2 linked regions of the Homo sapiens genome follow. The protein of the gene in region 1 interacts with the protein of each later gene in a pairwise test. Each region holds a gene or a part of one and is shown in the gene's direction. Other genes may lie near its edges.

Evidence for each region.
Region 2: the proteins of ETFRF1 (region 1) and JPH3 interact in binary tests that used the Homo sapiens proteins (3 or more experiments, as listed by UniProt).

The regions. Positions count from the first base shown.
Region 1 is NC_000012.12:25,201,667-25,205,482, forward strand, and holds the end of ETFRF1 (electron transfer flavoprotein regulatory factor 1), read left to right. Parts: exon of another isoform or gene 1-2,166; intron 2,167-2,253; 5' UTR 2,254-2,290; coding exon 2,291-2,341; intron 2,342-2,424; coding exon 2,425-2,646; 3' UTR 2,647-3,477; downstream 3,478-3,816. UniProt on the Homo sapiens protein: Acts as a regulator of the electron transfer flavoprotein by promoting the removal of flavin from the ETF holoenzyme (composed of ETFA and ETFB).
Region 2 is NC_000016.10:87,643,784-87,647,599, forward strand, and holds part of JPH3 (junctophilin-3), read left to right. Parts: intron 1-474; coding exon 475-1,252; intron 1,253-3,816. UniProt on the Homo sapiens protein: Junctophilins contribute to the formation of junctional membrane complexes (JMCs) which link the plasma membrane with the endoplasmic or sarcoplasmic reticulum in excitable cells.

The DNA.
Region 1 (3,816 bases):
AATACATGAAGGCACTGGCACCCTGCCTTTCAAATTGTAAAAGGTGTAAATTTTGCAAAATGCCTAAAGGGGCAGGTGAGGTCACAATGAGAATCTACACTATTGTACTTCGGGGTTCAACCCAAACAGAAGTTAACAGGAGAACTTAAATTATGTAGCGCATGATTTTTAATTGAGTATGGTACTGTAATTTTAATCCACATTTTCTGCTAGTTAACTATAAAATAACCCTTAAAACTGATCTAAAAGCCTATTTTAAAAATATAAGTTGCGGCCGGGCACGGTGGCTCACGCCTGTAATCCCAGCACTTTGGGAGGCCAAGGTGGGTGGATCACAAGGTGAGGAGATCAAGACCATCCCGGCCAACATGGTGAAACCCCGTCTCTACTGAAATACAAAAAAAAAAAAAAAAAAAATTAGCCAGGCGTGGTGGCGCGCACACGTAGTCCCAGCTTACTGGGGAGACTGAGGCAGGGGAATTGCTTGAACCAGGGAGGTGGAGGTTGCAGTGAGCTGAGATGGCACCACTGCACTCCAGCTTGGGGACAGAGCAAGAATCCATCTCAAAAAAAAAAAAGTTGCTTCCTGCTTGCCTATCAGAGTAATTCAGTCCAAAAGTCATTACGTGGGGCTGAGCAAGGCAGGCATCTGGGGAAGGTGGGGGCGAGAGAAAGGCTGGCAAGGTAGTAGCCCAGCAGGGGATACTGGAGCCCAAATGCAGTGAGGAGGGCCTCTGGGGGTAGGGACTTGTGCACAGCAGCAGCCTAGCAGGGGATGAGGAGGGCATCCTATTAGGGTGAAGGAAATGGTGGCACAGGTTTTTGGAATGGGAACAAAAGGTGAGCCTTACCCAGGAGGGAGGAAATGGTGCAGTGTAAGTTGCTTGAGCCCAAGAAGGGTAGGTTGGGGGAAAGGGGGAAGAGAAGACCATGCATGTGGGATGGTGGCAGTGGCACTCTGGCATTAGGTGGCAGAGCTCAGAGAGTAGAGTGTGTGCGCCGAATGGTGACAGCAAGAGGATTTTGATTACATAGTGAGAGAAGGGGTGATGATTATAAAAAGTAAATTTATTAAGGACAAGTGGGAACCAGACTTCTCACTGTTCAGCAAGAGTATTAAACCCATGTAAAGAGGGGAAATGAAAATAAACCCTGTAGTATTGGAATTGAATGTTAGGTAGCAGATTATATGGAGATTAATATAAAAGTCATACACACATACAACACCTAAATCCGTATGTATATACACTTGCAGCTTTGTCACTTAGAGGACCTGGGAACAGTGACAGTCCCATGGTGATTAGCATTTTTAGCACCCAGACCTTGGTTTCTAAAGCATTCCATCCAGATTATAGTTTCTAAATGCTATTCTCCATTAAAAGGACTAGGTTCCTTGGAGAAATAATTTTACAATGGACAATCTTAGCAAATACATTAATTGGGTAATCAAAGTTATCAATCACAATGGAACAAATTGCAGTTGCATCCACCTGATAGGATGCAATGTTAAGAGCTTACTATTCAACTCTAACAGGTAGTGGGAATTATTTTCTAGGTTTAGACTGTCATGATGCCTTTAAGTTTGGAGCCTCCTCTACAAAGTAGAGTTAACACATTACACATAAAGAAGCATGATTTTGCCTGTTCCTCAGGGACACCCTCTTACAGGTTGTTCATTTGGCCTCTTCACCACCAATCTTACTGCCCATCTACTATTCCAACCTGCTTAACTCACCCAGTTTCTGCTAGTTTTCAGCCTCCCTTTGGATAAGCACCCATCAGCATTTGATCAGGCTTCTGCTCAATGTCCTTCAAGTGGCTCTGGCCTTGCCTTGAGAGCAGGGTAAAGATAATCTCTTGTTTGTTGATAAGGAAAACTCAGGCTCAGCAAGGTTAATTAATCTGTACATTATGCAACTGGAATTTAAATCTAGTTTAACTCATTCCACTGTGGCATAAAAGGAGGTACACGTACCTATCTGTGATGACAATCCACTTTCTCATTTCCTTCATGTGACTTCTCACAATCACAATTGTCTTTGCTTATGTCTCCCATAGGAAAACGTCAATTATGACAGCAGGTAATTTTATCGGAAGTGTTTATAACTATATCCCAGTACGTGGAACGAAAAAGTTATCAAGAAATATTTATTGAATGTAAAAAAGGTTACCATTTTCTCAATGTGTATAACCTTTTTTTATTTTTTTAAGACTACAATGCAGCTAATTGCAAAAAAATTTTCCTTTCTTTAGGTATGTTATGCATAAAAGTGGATAATTTACATGATAAATGAAAATGGCCAATTCTTTAAGAGGAGAAGTACTAAAACTTTATAAAAATGTAAGTAATTATGTTGCCAATTTTATAAAAATGTTATTATATGACATGGATTGTTTAGAAATATATAATCTTTCTTTTTGAAGCTGCTGTATCTTGGACGAGACTATCCAAAAGGAGCAGACTATTTTAAAAAGCGTTTGAAGAACATTTTCCTTAAAAACAAAGATGTGAAGAATCCAGAGAAGATCAAAGAACTTATTGCACAGGGCGAATTTGTAATGAAAGAGCTAGAAGCTTTGTACTTCCTTAGGAAATACAGAGCTATGAAACAACGCTATTATTCAGATACCAACAAAACTAATTGATCATTACTACTTTAATTTAGCTATCAGTGCCAGCTGTTTATGTATACCAGATGTTGTAAAATAATTCTAACTTAAAATGGGAAGATATACATGTTGTGTAAAAAATCCCTGAGCTGCCCTACTGAACTAAATAGGTTTCAACTTCTGTTCATACGGAGAAAGTATCAGCAACTTTATGCTCAATTTTGATACAAACATAGCAATTTAGCTATACTACCGATCATAAATTAATGAGCACCCAATTTTGAATGAAAATATAATACACTTAATCCTCTAACTTAATAGGACTTAGCCAATTATTTTTAGCTTATTTCTCCATTTTACTGACAAGAGAATGCCATTTACCGAACATTTAATAAGCAAAATAATTTCTTACACACTTACTTCTCTTAACTTTTGAAAGGAATCCCTTATTTTTTCACCCAATTTGGTATATTAACAGCACATACTCAAGGTTCACTACAAAACAAACAGTTCCTGGTAATGATTTAAATGTAGTTATAGAAATAAATAATATGTATGGAGTCATTACTTCTGACCTTGAAATAGCCTGCTGGTGACTGGCATTAACATACATAACTAACTATTCAATTATTTCCATTATTAATGTTGCTGCTGCTACCTTTGGGCCTAAAACCAAGTCACCTGTTGTGTATCAATTACCTTCTTTGATAAAAGGAAATAAATAAATAATGTTATCCTATTTTTTTGTCATAAAGGCAGATTTGTTTTGCATCTACTTCTAAATATGGTTTTAAGTTTAAGCAAACACGCCTTTACATAATATCCACAGCACCTTTTAGAAATAAAGGATACTTCTAACAAGCTGCATAAAAGATTCACTGGTATACTATAGTGTCTATGGCTTATAAAGTATTCCATATCCATTTCGGGGCAAACAGTTCAAATTTCATGAATAAATACACACTCATAGTCACTGTAACTATTTTTATTACATTACAATAATTAGGAGTAGTACAGTTCATGACAAAAATATTACAAATTTTAGATCACTTCACAGCACATACTCCTATAAACATTTAAAAGTTAATTTCAATTAAAAGAGTGGTCATTTTTAATGTTTGATATGACCAACATTCCTAGGTCAGCGCAACCAAATGATGGAAAACAACTGGATCACACTGCATATGTCCCACAAAAGAAAGCACA
Region 2 (3,816 bases), on another chromosome or scaffold:
ATAGAAGTTGTAGGAAGGTACCATGGTCTGTCTGCCTCCACGCAAACCTCACCAGGTTTCATCAAGATAGCACACCAGGAGTGGTGTGGCTCATGACTGTAATCACAGCACTTCTGGAGGCTGAGGCAGGATCACTTGAGCCCATGAGTTAGAAACCAGCCTGGCCAACATAATGAGACTGCCATCTCTACAAATAATTTACAAAGTAGTGGAGCATGGTGGTGCACGCCTGTAGTCCCAGCTGCGCAGGAGGCTGAGGCAGGAGGATCGCCTGAGCCCAGGGGTTCCTGGCTGTCGTGAGCTGTGATGGTCTCACTGCACTCCAGCCTGGGCAACACAGCGAGAACCTGTCTCAAAAAACACAAAACAACAGGAAGCTCAGACAGGACTGTGGCTGCTTCAACCCTGTCCGTGGCCAGGCTGTGCCCCCTCCTCTGTCGCTGGGCACTCACCCCTCTCTCATTTTCTCCCCAGGGACCTACCAGGGCCAGTGGGTCGGTGGCATGCGCCAGGGCTACGGCGTCCGGCAGAGCGTCCCGTATGGCATGGCCGCGGTCATCCGCTCACCCCTGAGGACGTCCATCAACTCCCTGCGCAGCGAGCACACCAACGGCACGGCGCTGCATCCCGACGCCTCTCCGGCGGTGGCCGGCAGCCCGGCCGTGTCCCGCGGGGGCTTCGTGCTCGTGGCCCACAGTGACTCCGAGATCCTCAAGAGCAAGAAGAAGGGGCTGTTTCGGCGCTCGCTGCTGAGTGGGCTGAAGCTGCGCAAGTCGGAGTCCAAGAGCAGCCTGGCCAGCCAACGCAGCAAGCAGAGCTCCTTTCGCAGCGAGGCGGGCATGAGCACCGTCAGCTCCACGGCCAGCGACATCCACTCCACCATCAGCCTGGGCGAGGCTGAGGCCGAGCTGGCGGTCATCGAGGACGACATCGACGCCACCACCACCGAGACCTACGTGGGCGAGTGGAAGAACGACAAACGCTCCGGCTTCGGCGTGAGCCAGCGCTCGGACGGGCTCAAGTACGAGGGCGAGTGGGCCAGCAACCGGCGCCATGGCTACGGCTGCATGACCTTCCCGGACGGCACCAAGGAGGAGGGCAAGTACAAGCAGAACATCCTCGTCGGCGGCAAGCGCAAGAACCTCATCCCCCTGCGGGCCAGCAAGATCCGCGAGAAGGTGGACCGCGCCGTTGAGGCCGCTGAGCGGGCCGCCACCATCGCCAAGCAGAAGGCTGAGATCGCGGCTTCCAGGTAGGAGGGCGAGGGGGCGGGGGGCCCTTCTTGGTGCCCAGAAGGTGTTTGTGAGCCCAGTCTGTTCAGTCCTGCTGTCGCTCAAGGCCTTGGGCTAGGCCCAGTTTGAGGCCTACACTGGTGTTTCTCAAACTATGCCCCCATGGAACCCTAGGGTTCCCTGGAGGTTCTCAGAGGTGACTGTGGTCAGGATTGGTGCAGAGGAATGGTTGATTTGTGGGGGTGTAGAGGCCTACAGCCTCCTTAAACTGAGCAGTGTCTCTTTGTTCTATATGCTGATGTTTAGTGTAAAATATTGGTGAATAAAGAAGGTGGTCTGTTCCGTTAGTACAATGCATTGGAGTGCTGCTGTGCTAGCTAGTAGGGGTGACACCACCAGGTGGGGGTGGCAGGTCCAGCACTGCAGGGCTGTGGGAGGTGGCTAGGAGCTGCCTCAGCTACCCAGACCTGCGATCTAGATTCTTCCGGGACCCTGGGAGATGGCAGCAGTTGGGAGGCCAATTCCGAGTGCCTGGCAAGGGGCTCATGCAGGCCTGGTGCTTTGGGGGCAGCCGCTGTTCTGAATCGGCTGCATGACTTACGGAATTTGGGGTCCAGTGGGGCCTCTAGGCCCTAAGGAATGGGTCCAGAGGTGACTGTGGGTGGGATCGACGTGGCTTTTGGGTACCTTTAGGGGTGGGTGCAGGATGGGGCCTTTAGGGCTGGAGGAAGGTGCCCAGGGTCTGGCTCCTGTGGAGGTGAGTGTGTGAGCCAGGGGCTGGTCCCCGCCAAGCTGTGGCTGGCAGGAGCCACCTGCTGCAGGTTGGAGGAAGTTCCCCTGTGGAAAGCCACGGGCCCCACAGGTAGGCATTTGGGTTCTAAAGTAACTGAGGTTACTAAAGGGCTTTGTCAAGACTTGGGAAGGCATTTCAGAAAACCCAGAGCCTTTGCTTTCCACCGGCATTTGCTTTCCTGGGCCAGACGAGGGCCCTTGGGGTAGCCCGGAGAGTCTTGGGGCAGGGATCTGGGAGCTGCGGGGGAGTCCATGGGCTGCCCAGGCAGGAGGCTTCCCAGGGCACGTTCCCCTGCGTCTTTCTGGATGGCTTTGTGTTCTCAGCCAGGGGCAGACCTGGAGTTCCTCCAGGAAAGCTCCCAGCCTGGGTGCGGCTCAGCCCTTCCCGACCTGTCGCTAATTAAAGTTCAGCCCATTTGGTTCTGATTTTCAGTGACCTTTGATCTATAGTGAAAAACAAAAATGGTGGCTGCGGTTTGTTGGCAGAATATGTTGCTCGCGACTTCTATTGTTTTAGAGGGAATCAAGATCGATTCCAAGAAGCTGAAAGAAACATGGAATTACTACCTGACACCGAGGTCCAAACTCGCTGTTTGCCCCTCCCTGCTCCCTCAGAAATGTTCAGGCAGGGAAATAAACAGCAGCCCACGTGTGACTACTCATCTGGGGTTTTAAGAACAAATTAGAATCAGTAGTTATTTTTTCCATCATAAATGTAATACTTGTTCCACAGGAAAATAAATAACACTGAGAAGGGAGAAAGCAGCATTAGCTCTGGTCTGATGGATCGGCCGAGCGCTCTCCTTGGCATTTTGGTGAATTTCTTTCCTCTGTGTTTTGTTTTTCGACCCTTTCTATTTTGTATAGTTGCTTTTTTGACCCTAGTGGACAAGAAGCAGTTTTGGGGGCTGGGGGACAGCGGCGTCACGGAATTGAGGAAGCTCGTGGCAGCTTCCGTGTGACCTGCAGATTGGTTCATGAGTTCATTGGTTCATGAGTTCTCAGCAGCTCGAGGACTTAGTGGACAGTGCCCTGCAGGACTGAGCTTATTTCACAGCCTTGGCACTGGGTGGATGTCTGTAGGACTGGGGGGACCTGCGACCTGAGATAGTTTTCAGACGAATTCCCCTAGACATTAAGAGAAGCGGGTTCCCATTAAGGAGCCCAGGTGGCATGGACAGGGCTGGGGGCAGCACAGGTGAGGAGCTGCTCCAAGGCAGGTTGTCAGCCTCTCTGGACCTCAACTTCTAATCTCTGAAGGCCTGTGAAGCTTAGGTGGTAACAGCTCCCTTCCTGGGGCATCCAACCTCTTCCTGGGGTTTTGGGGGGCCCAGGGGCTCTGTGGAGCATTGCTGGGGGAGATGCCTACGTATAAGTGGGCATCATGCTGGGGTGAAAGCCCAGGGGCTGGGCCGGGAGGGCGAGACCTGAGACCCATGCAAAGGAGCCGGGGCCAGGGTGGGGTGGGCACGGCTCCTACTGAGTCCCCAGCCCTTGGGACGCTGGCCAGCCAGCCTTGGCATGGCCAGCATCCCTGTGTCTCCTGGGGAGGCATTTTACTTAATGGACAGAAGGACAGACAGACGGGTGGAGGGAGTGAGAGGGAAAGGATGGGTTTGCAGGCTGGTGCAGCTGTGAAACTGACGGAGCCCACCCCCTGCCAACCCCCCGACAGCCTTTGAGGCCCAGCAGCCCATGCTCCCTGGCAGGTTGCGGCTTGCCTTCTGCACTGGCGGAGTCCGAGCTGACTCCGTCCCTTCGCCCGAGCGGGCGTCGCGGGGAGGGAGGTGGT